Regions from separate parts of the Homo sapiens genome. Here regions 1 and 3 are each reported to be linked to region 2. Evidence: microRNA targets listed by miRTarBase, many of them from high-throughput screens and not tested one by one. Region 2 holds a microRNA gene; each other region holds the end of a gene's coding sequence.
The links. Region 2 holds the annotated microRNA hsa-miR-4755-3p (AGCCAGGCUCUGAAGGGAAAGU, at 1,926-1,947, shown strand). A microRNA usually pairs through its seed, bases 2 to 8, with sites in the 3' UTR of a target mRNA and lowers its output. Matches are read on the target gene's strand: a 7mer-m8 pairs with bases 2 to 8, a 7mer-A1 pairs with bases 2 to 7 and ends in A, and an 8mer does both.

Region 1: miRTarBase lists APOL2 as a target of hsa-miR-4755-3p. Seed matches in the 3' UTR shown: 7mer-m8 at 2,132-2,138.
Region 3: miRTarBase lists DMXL1 as a target of hsa-miR-4755-3p. The part of its 3' UTR that is shown has no 7-base or 8-base seed match.

The regions. Positions count from the first base shown.
Region 1 is chr22:36,224,904-36,228,163 of GRCh38, forward strand. It overlaps APOL2 (apolipoprotein L2), which reads right to left. Exons shown (of 5, transcript NM_030882.4): 5 at 1,306-3,260. The coding sequence ends at 2,501. Among named protein-coding and RNA genes, the nearest start is that of APOL2, 13 kb to the right of the region's middle. RefSeq lists an enhancer at 2,260-2,938.
Region 2 is chr20:34,047,237-34,050,496 of GRCh38, forward strand. MIR4755 (microRNA 4755) reads left to right here and starts at 1,883; the gene lies at 1,883-1,954. All of the region lies in intron 2 of RALY (RALY heterogeneous nuclear ribonucleoprotein), which reads left to right.
Region 3 is chr5:119,246,905-119,250,164 of GRCh38, forward strand. DMXL1 (Dmx like 1) reads left to right here. Exons shown (of 44, transcript NM_001290321.3): 44 at 91-2,223. The coding sequence ends at 315. Among named protein-coding and RNA genes, the nearest start is that of MIR5706, 94 kb to the left of the region's middle.

The DNA of each region.
Region 1 (3,260 bases), not on the chromosome of region 2:
GGGAAGCCATTAGAGGGTTGGAAGCAGGTGCTCAATCAAACCTATGTTCTTAGGTGGGCATGGTGGCTCATGCCTGCAATTGCAGTCCATTGGAAGGCCAGGGTGAACAGATCACCTGAGCTCAGGAGTTTGAGACCAGCCTGGGCAAGATAGGGAAACCCTGTCTCTACAAAAAAAAAAAAAAATACAAAAATTAACGAGGCATTGGGGTACACACGGATGGTCCCAATTGCTCAGGGAGTCAAGGTGGAAGGATAGTTTGAGGCCGGGAGGTCCAAGATGTGGTGAGCCATGATTGTGCCACGGTTTGCCAGCCTTGCAACAGAGTGAGAGTATCTGAAAAAAAAAAAGAAACTATATTGTTAAAGCCCAACCTGGCCCAGTGTGGAGCATGGTCCAGGACATGGGAGGGACAGGGGCAGGGGCACAGAGAAGACCATTCTGGAAGTTCTTGCAGGAGTCTGGGCAAAACGTGAGGACAGACTGGATGGGAGTGTTTGCTGTCTGGATGTCTCTCTTTGTCCCTCTATTTTTCGCTGATCCTCTCCCAATCTGCACACAGGCCCCTCTGACACTAGTTAGCCTCGAGTGTCCCGTGTCAATCCCGGGCTCTGACTCACAGATGGAAACCACACCTGTGCTCAGCCAGAGCCAGACATGTACAAGCTTTCCCCGAGTGCCCCAATGGGCTTGGGGTTTTGAGGTCTCAGGGAAATGACCAGCTGGGAAAGTGAGAGTCCAGTGAGCGAGCAGAAGGGGTCTTGAAACTTCGCTCCCTGAGACCCTGGAAGAAGGATCATGAGGAAGGTTAAGTCAGGCACCCAGAGCCCAGGGGAGCCTCCATCGGCACCACAAAGTCACAGCCATCAGTCAGTGCTGATTGACTCAAGTCTCCAGAACACAAGATGGGGAGAGCAAGGTGGACCTGAGATATCACCTTTTCCAGCCCCCTTCTACAGCTGATGAGGAAACTGAGGCTCAGAGGGGTGAAGTCTCATGACCACAAGCAGGGTTGAACTCCTGGACACACCTCAAGCTTCCTTGACCTGTTCCTGGCATCTCCTTTCATTTTTCCTTTCTTCCCAAATTAACCTCTTTCCAACACAGCACTTCAAGTTCCCCTGGAACTTCATCGGTCCATCGGTGTCCCCTGGTCTGGAAGAGCACCGACCACTTGCCAAGGCCCCCACCACTCTGCTGCCATCACAACCACCATCACCACCATTACGAGAAAAACTTGAGACTGATGGCCCCCAAAGCTTAGAAGGAGCTGAGAGACCAAAGAATGACTCGAACAAGTCCAGCTTGGTGAGTAGGTGAGTTTATTGGGACTTACACACAGGTCAATCCTGGGCAGCGACAGGACAGCTCTAGAGATCTGTGCTTCCTCCCAATGCTAAACTGCTTTCATGCTAATCTTCTGACTGTTTACTTACCGGCTAAGAGCGATGGGACTGTTTTCATTGGTTGGTTCTCAGATACTCTCTGGGAAGTTTGGGTTCTCAGGGACACCTGCTCCTCAGCTGGGGATTGTGGCCATGGCCTACCACCTGCCTCTCAGGGTTCAAGCAGGGGACATGCACCCTTTAGTAACCTGGAGGGGACCCGTCACATGACAACCACCCCAACCACCATCATGAAGAAGCCACTGGCTGACTGTGATACACCCCCAGAAGGACAAGGGAGAGTGGATGCTGGAAAGACAGAGCGAGAGACCATCACCAGGGAAAGACTTTATTCTTGGAAGGACATCAAACCTGGGGGGGGGTCGGTAGTGGAGCTGCTGTTTCTTCTCCTGTATCCAACAGTTCTAACTCTGGTTTTCTCCATTTTCAGCTCTTTCTTTTCCTGGCCTTCTCATTGCTGGTTCCTGCAAGCTCCCCCTCTATTCTTCGCCCAATATATTCTTTAGTCCAAAGTAAACTACTTCTTCCCATTCCCCACACTCTCCAGTCCTCTCTCCTCCCTTATTGCAGGCTCCAGTGTTCCTGCCTTCTCCTTGGTGCACTTGCCATCTGCATTAACCCCTCCCTTGCTGTGCTCAGCTACACAAATGCCAAAGTCACTAACACTCAGTTCCATAAGCTTTACCTTGCCCTCCTTATCCCCCTAATAAAATGTCTGCATTTTGGCCAGGCGCGGTGGCTCACGCCTGTAATCCCAGCACTTTGGGAGGCCGAGGTGGGCAGATCACGAGGTCAGGAGATGGAGACCATCGTGGCTAACACAGTGAAACCCCGTCTCCAGTGAAAATACAAAAAAATTAGCCGGGCGTGGTGGCAGGTGCCTGTAGTCCCAGCTACTCGGGAGACTGAGGCCGGAGAATGGTGTGAACCCGGGAGGCGGAGTTTGCAGTGAGCCGAGATTGAGCCACTGCACTCCATCCTGGGCGATAGAGCGAGACTCCATCTCAAAAAAAAAAAAAAAAAAAAAAAAAAGTCTGCATTTTGTCCTGGCCTGTGCCCGGCATTTCTGCCCTGGTGGCTGCACTGCTCTGGGGTCATTGGTCTTGGCCTGGCTGCAGCATCTCATGGATCTTGGTGAGAAAGTTGAGCTTCCCCTCCAGCTCCTGAGCCCGCTTCTTCAGCTCCTCAGCTGACTCTGACTTTGCCCCCTCAAGCAAGTGCTTTGACTCATATGCAAGGCTGACCACATCCAGCAGAAGCAAGATGCCTCCAGTGGCTGCACCCACGATCATGGTTCCTCTGCTCATTGCCTGGGCGGGGCCTTCAACAACCCTCTCAACCTGTTCACCGCCTTCAGCTGAGATTCGCCCAATGACATGCGGGGGTGGGGCATACGCTCCTAACTGAGGGTTGGCTCTGGCTCGTCTGATGGCACGGATGTTCCTCCCAATCCCTTGTGTGACTTGGTACCAATTGTCAACTAAGGTAAGAACATTGGGTGTGTTCCCACCCACAAACTCCTTCATCACCTTTGCTACATTGGTGCCGCTTTGGTCCAAGTTGCGGGCTTGGGCTCGTGCCCGCAATTTGTTTACTAGTTCTACCACACTGCAGGTAATCCCAGCCACAGCAGCTGCTGCTCCCAGACCCATGCCAGTGTCCAAGAGCACAAAACTGATTCCTTCTGTGAAGGGTGCCAGACCCAGGCCGAGGAGGGTCAGGATGCCAGAGGTAGTGCCAACAGAGTTGGACACCACATTGGCAATGGTGGTGCCTCTGTGGACCTGCTCAACCTCCTCTGCAAGGGCACGGAGCTTCCTTATGTGATCCTCAAGCTCCCTTTTCAACCGAGGA
Region 2 (3,260 bases):
GAGCAGTAGTACCTGGGCTGGCCCTGTGTGACTTAGAGCGGACAGTATGGGAGGTGGAGAACTGGGTGCATGGGAGCCATTAGATCAAGAATTGGAAATTCCTCACAAATAAAAGGTTTCTGGGGTAGGAGCAGGGGGCAGTGTTGATGGTGACTCTGCTTGGATTATCTTCTAGGGATGGAGGATTGCCAGCTCCATTGAATGGAAGGACTGGTGATGCGCAGCCACTCTTGCATGTGCCCGGGCAAAAGACAGTGTGTTGGTGGCAAATGCCTAATGTGTCTATGGCTGACCATGGGCCATCTCTGCCATTCAAGACATCAGCTCCTGGCAGAGTTGTATTGGTTTGATAGAGCTTTAGTCTTCGGAGTCGCACAGACCTGAGTTCAAATCCTTCTCTGCCATTTACTGTAATAATTGTGTTCCTTAGGCTGATCCTTTAGCTCTCAGATCCTCTTTTTCCTTTTCTCTAAAATGATGTGGTTGATATCTGCTTTTGAGGTTGTGAGGATTTAAAATAACAGGTAAATAGGTGCCACACAGTACCAGATACTTAGTTGGGTGAGTAGCCTGGTGATCTGTGGCTGTTAGCTCTTTGAAGGCCAGTATCCCTAGGAGATAGCAGCAACGTCAGCACTGCTCTGATTCCCTGACCAACCCCCAACCCCACCTTTGCCCTCAGAAATACCCTGGACCCTTGTTTCCTTCCTCAAGTTCAGACCCCAGAAATGTTGGGCAAGAAGGAGCCTCCAGGCCAGGCTTTATTGTGCCAGATGTTATATCTGAGTAAGCAGGATTGTTACACAGCAGAGATACAGGAGCAGAGCAGGTAGCTCAGGCAGCTGCTGATGAACAAAAGGCTTCTTCTCTCTGTTCCCAATAAATTGGTCCTTGGGGATCCTAGCTTTGAAATTCTAATTGACACAGGAAGGAAAAGATTCATTAGGCTCTGGACTCGTTAAAATGCTCTGCTGCTCACCTACGATTTATTCTTGGCACTTCATCAAGAGGAATTAAGTAAACCAATGGGCTGGGAGGCTCCTGACAGCAGAGTCGTGTGTCTCTCGTGCTCCTGGGGGGATGAGAGTGTTGGGTCTCCTATGCTATGGAGCATATAGCTGGCTTTGGAATCTCCTCATCCCTAGGACTTCACATGAGTCTAAGTCTCATATGCTTTTAACAATGGAGGGACCTTCTGAGATCATACTGTGTAACTCATTTATAGATGGTCCAAAGAAGAACTGGGACTTGCTCAAGATCACGAAACGCATTAGTAGTGGAGTTAGAATTAGAATCAGTCAGGCTGCATGACTTCCAGGTCAAGAATATTTTCTCTGCGGCCGGGCGTGGTGGCTCACGCCTGTAATCCCAGCACTTTGGGAGGCTGAGGCAGGTGGATCACGAGGTCAGGAGATCAAGACCATCCTGGCTAACACGGTGAAACTCCATCTCCACTAAAAATACAAAAAATTAGCCGGGCGTGGTGGCGGGCGCCTGTAGTCCCAGCTACTCGGGAAGCTGAGGCAGGAGAATGGCGTGAACCCTGGAGGCAGAGCTTGCAGTGAGCCGAGATCGCACCACTGCACTCTAGCCTGGGAGACAGCGAGACTCCGTCTCAAAAAAAAAAAAAAAAAATTTTCTCTGCATCACCTTTGGATTTCTACACCCAGTGTTTCATTCATTCAGCCTTCAACAGATACTTTTAACACATTCTGTGTGCCAGGACTCTGTGATAAACAAAACAGCCATGGAGGAAAGTAAATACCTGACCCAGTATTAGGAGAGATTAGAAAGGCCTCCAAGTCTGAGAGATGGATAGGAATTAGCTCAGCAAGGAGAGATGAGGAAGGTTATGGCTGAGGAACTGGCATCTATGAAAGCCAGATTCAGCTTTCCCTTCAGAGCCTGGCTTTGGCATCTATGAAAGCCAGGCTCTGAAGGGAAAGTTGAATCTTGCTAGAGTGGAGAATTGAGGAAGAGATGAGATGTTAAGGCAAGCCGAGTCTATGAGGTTTGGGCCACTGTATGGTTGTAAAGAACCCTGGATCTGGGATTAGGAGTCCTGAGTTCTAGATATGTTTCTGCTACCAATATGTTAGTCATCATTCTAGTAACACTTCACATCTTTTAGGTGTGCCATGATGGGCACTGGGGTACAAAAATGTGTAAGATGTATGTAGTCCCCTCCCTCAGAGATCTGTCAGTTTAATGAGGCAAGCAGGCTAATTAAGAACCCCTGTAGTAAAGGAACAGTTACCTCTGCTGTAAGAAGTCAGAATTGAGCTGTGTGTTACTTTAAGCACTTTCTCTGGGCTTTGATGATCTCACCTGTCAAATGGTAAATAACCACTGTCCTATGTAGCTGGTAAACTGATGAGAAGACAGACAACTTTGTAATGATTGGCGTTTGTTTGGCATTTTGTGGATTTCAAAACACTTTTGACATCATTAATTCATTGAACCTTAACTGCAATCTTATGACTTAGGAAATTTCCCCACAATGTACAGATGAGGAAACTGAGAGAGGTTGAGGCTTGTTCATAGTTTCACAGCTTTTGATTAACAAAAGTTAGGATTATAAATCCAAATCCCGTGCTCTTATTTTGAAAAGTATAAAGATGGCAACCTTTCTTTCTATCCCCTACTTAGTGGCAAATTATCCCCTTCCCCTTTTCACAGTCACCAGAAATGCAGAGAATGTCTGCTGTGTTTGAAAAGCAGATCTAAGCTGACTGGGGAGAAAGAAAGGAGCTTATTTCAGGTCTTCTTCAGGCTGGACTCTAAACTTTTAAGATCATGTGCGCCCGTGCTCCCATCAGCTCCTGCTGTTCCATCTCATGCCATTTACAGAGTGCCATTTACTGAGCCACTACTTCATTGGCTACTCATAGCAACTTGTGGGGTAGACAAAGTGCACTTTACAGATGGGCAAACTGAGGTCCAGAGTCCCTGAATTGTACATGTCAGAACCAGGATTGAATCTAGAAGTCTTGGGCTCCTGACACCAAACAGGTGCTCTTAACTTGCAGAATGTAGGTTCCTTTGATTCAGTTCGGTTCAAACAATTCTTGAATATAACCCATGTGCCAGAGACTTTGCTATGCAAGAGAGCCTCTAGTTAGGCTCAAACCGTCTTGGTCTAGTGCCTTACTTAAGAACAGGGACTTGTATTATTTACTTCTCTGTCCCCAGGCAGGACCTTGATCCAAAAATGCTTTGCTGTTGTTTTTGGCCTTAATCTGCCAGAAACTAGAGGGAGC
Region 3 (3,260 bases), not on the chromosome of region 2:
TTACAGGCATGAGCCACCGCACCTGGCCTCATTTGATTTCTTAAGGTCATCATCAACCCTAATTTTCCGTTTGTTCTTAATATCTTTCAGATTTGGAGTCTCTCTACCTTTGGTCTTCTCCATACTTTTGTCAGTGAACATGCTCGGCAGTCCATTTTTAGAAATATTGGAACTGGAGTGATGCAAATTGAGACAGGGCCTGCAAATCACATTTTCTCCTGTGGAGCTGATGGAACAATGAAAATGAGAATACTGCCAGATCAGTTTAGCCCTTTAAATGAAGTGTTGAAAAATGATGTGAAATTTATGCTATAACATTTTTACAATAAGATGTACAATTTATTACCTATATGGAAGTGGCCAACAGATATAATATACAGTGATCATTCTCTATGCCACAAATTAGCTAATGCTTTCTTGTTTTTATATTTATTTTATGGAGCTTTGCCCTTGATGCACTGATGCCTTAAAAATTAACAAGGTCATTCAGAAGTAGATTACATTGCCTAAAGTAGAATGTGTAAGTAATGCTGTAATAATACATATCATAGTATATTATAATCAGTATGTCATAGTGTTAAAGGTGTTTTGTTTTCTTATTGATACTTTTCCACAGGCATCTCTGCATGAATTTCTTCCACAGTAAAAATACGTTTTTTGTAAAGGCAATTGTACATAATACTCATCACTTAATTCACCACACTCTCACTTCCTTTATTAGCCTTATACATCTCAAACTCTTCTCTTAATTAATGATAGGTATTTGAGTAAGAATGAAAAAAATAATGAACATCTTCATTAAAATTGTCATTGAGACGTCAGTGATAAATGAGCTAGATGGCTCAATATGTAAGGTTTTCAGTAGTTTACCCTCCGGAACCCAAGTTGTATGTATGTATACGTGTGTGTGTGTGTGTGTGTGTGTATCTTACACATCTTATTTGAACTTAGTTGTATATATTAGCGAAAACTGGTTTTTCATGTGTTTTTGTGCCATAACAACTATTGCCACCAGAATAACTTTTTTTTTGCAACTGTGCTTTTCATTTTTAAAAAATTTTTGAATTCCCATCCTAATTTTCAAATAAGTTTCAAGGAGACTATCAGGATTATTATTTTAAAGATTAGATTTAGTCAAATAAGTCTTAGCAGGCAATAAAGTTTCTGTGGTGGCATATATCATGTAAGACACTTAAAGTAAGTTTGTGAATTTGTCAACTTTCGAGCATCAAACAAATATTTTACTTAAATTTTATTTTATCTTATTTTTAGGTGCTTTTAATCTCAAAATTCTGAAAAGCGAATAGCAGTGTTTTCAGAAACAAATGTGAAAGCAGTCAAATTAAGTAGATACTATTTAGAAATGTAAAATACTCTCCAGATCTACCATTAATAGAAAATAAACTAAACCTTATATTTTATTTTTGCCAAAATATTTTATTATAAAATATGACCAAAATATTTAAAATGCACAATGCTTTTAACTTAAATGTGCTAACCCTGTTTCTGTCTGTTTTGTGCTGTACCTTTTCTGATTCAGAATTATAGAAAACTTGATAAATACTTGATTTTAACCAATGAGACTACAGGCAGATGGGACTAAGTGTTTATGGGACAATTATGTACTATTTAACTTAAATATATTTTGTTTAATAGGAAATATATAATAATAGCATTTTATGTAATAAAATATGGGCAACGATTATCTTGGAAATTAAAGAGTCAAAGCAAAGAAATGAAGGGCTGGTAAAATGAATTTTGTAATATCCTCAGGATACTTTTATCTTAAAAGTATGTTGTTAAAGATTTTGTAAATTGTATTTCAACAATTTTAAATGTGTTGAGCAAGTTGCAGTGCAAACACTGTCATTATGTAGAGAGTTTATATGCACATAATAACCTGTACCTATAAATCGTGCAATAACCATATGCGACTATTTTGCCATGGAGAAATCTGACAGCATTGCAAACAATAGTATTGTTTGATGTAGTTAACCTTAAGTTATTTTTCAGTAATTTCTTCACAAATCAAGATTCAAACAGCTTTAAACACTTCCAATGAGATAAAATATTTACTATTATGCTTATTAGAACAAAAGGTGTTTAAGGATGAACTAAATATTTTAATTGAGCATTTATATGGATAATCATACATTATGTAAGCCCATATGTATTTACATCCAGAGTCATAATATTTTAAATAAACAATCATGCAGAAACTTTTTTAGGGGGTATACTATTGTTTTAATATCGTTGCCAATTTAGCTGACTTAAAATATGTGACATTTTAAAATCAAGAATTTCCATATTTGTATTTGGTTAATGTAAGGAGGATGGAATAACTTTCCCGAATACCCTGTTCTTTTCTACCGTCTTTTTAAGTTGATAGGTAAGCAGCATTCAAGGAAGGTGGGAATAAAAATTGTTGAAATGTTTAAATATAAAATGATATACATATATGTAAAATTTCATTATCCACATTAATGGAGTGGATACATCAAAATACATTTTTTAATTGTGTGTTTCCTAAGAATGTGGCTTTGTGATCATATAAGGATTCACAACATTAACAAATCTTATTTTCTGATATCTAGGATTTTTCTTAACTAAAACCATGGACCAGTCATCTCCATCCTCCTTTCTTGCTCTTTGCCCTTGCCCTCCCTTCTTTGAAAAAAAAAATATTTTTTAGAAGAATTGCAGAAATTTCTCACATTGGTCCCAACAATGGAAACACAATACAAAGACACATTCAAAGAAAAGTCTATACAACCTTAGGGTGGAAGTGATCTTTTTAACAAGATTGGAAACACAGACATATTTTACTTAATAAAAAATTTAAATGTCATATGGCAGGGACCACAGTCAAAGTTAAAACAACAAGTAGACTAGAAGAAATATTTGTATAGTAATAGGAAACATGTCAGTGTCCCTGTATACAAAGAGAAGTTTAAGTTATTGGAGAAGTGGTCACACTGTGAATAAGCAATTCACAGAACAGGACATTGAAAAAGTCAACAAATATAAAGTGTGTTCATCTTCATTATAAGGGTTAATGGATTGTTTTTTAAAAAGTATTACTGTAATACTAGTTTTTATCAGATTGGTTTAAGGTTAAATAGTGACAATATCCATTTTGGTGAAGATGCAAGGAAATTGGCAGAAACATTGCTGGCAAAGTTATCTGGGTGTGAATTAAAATCAAATACACATAACTTTCAGTGAACAACCTTCTGAGAAATTATAAAAATAAAAGCTTC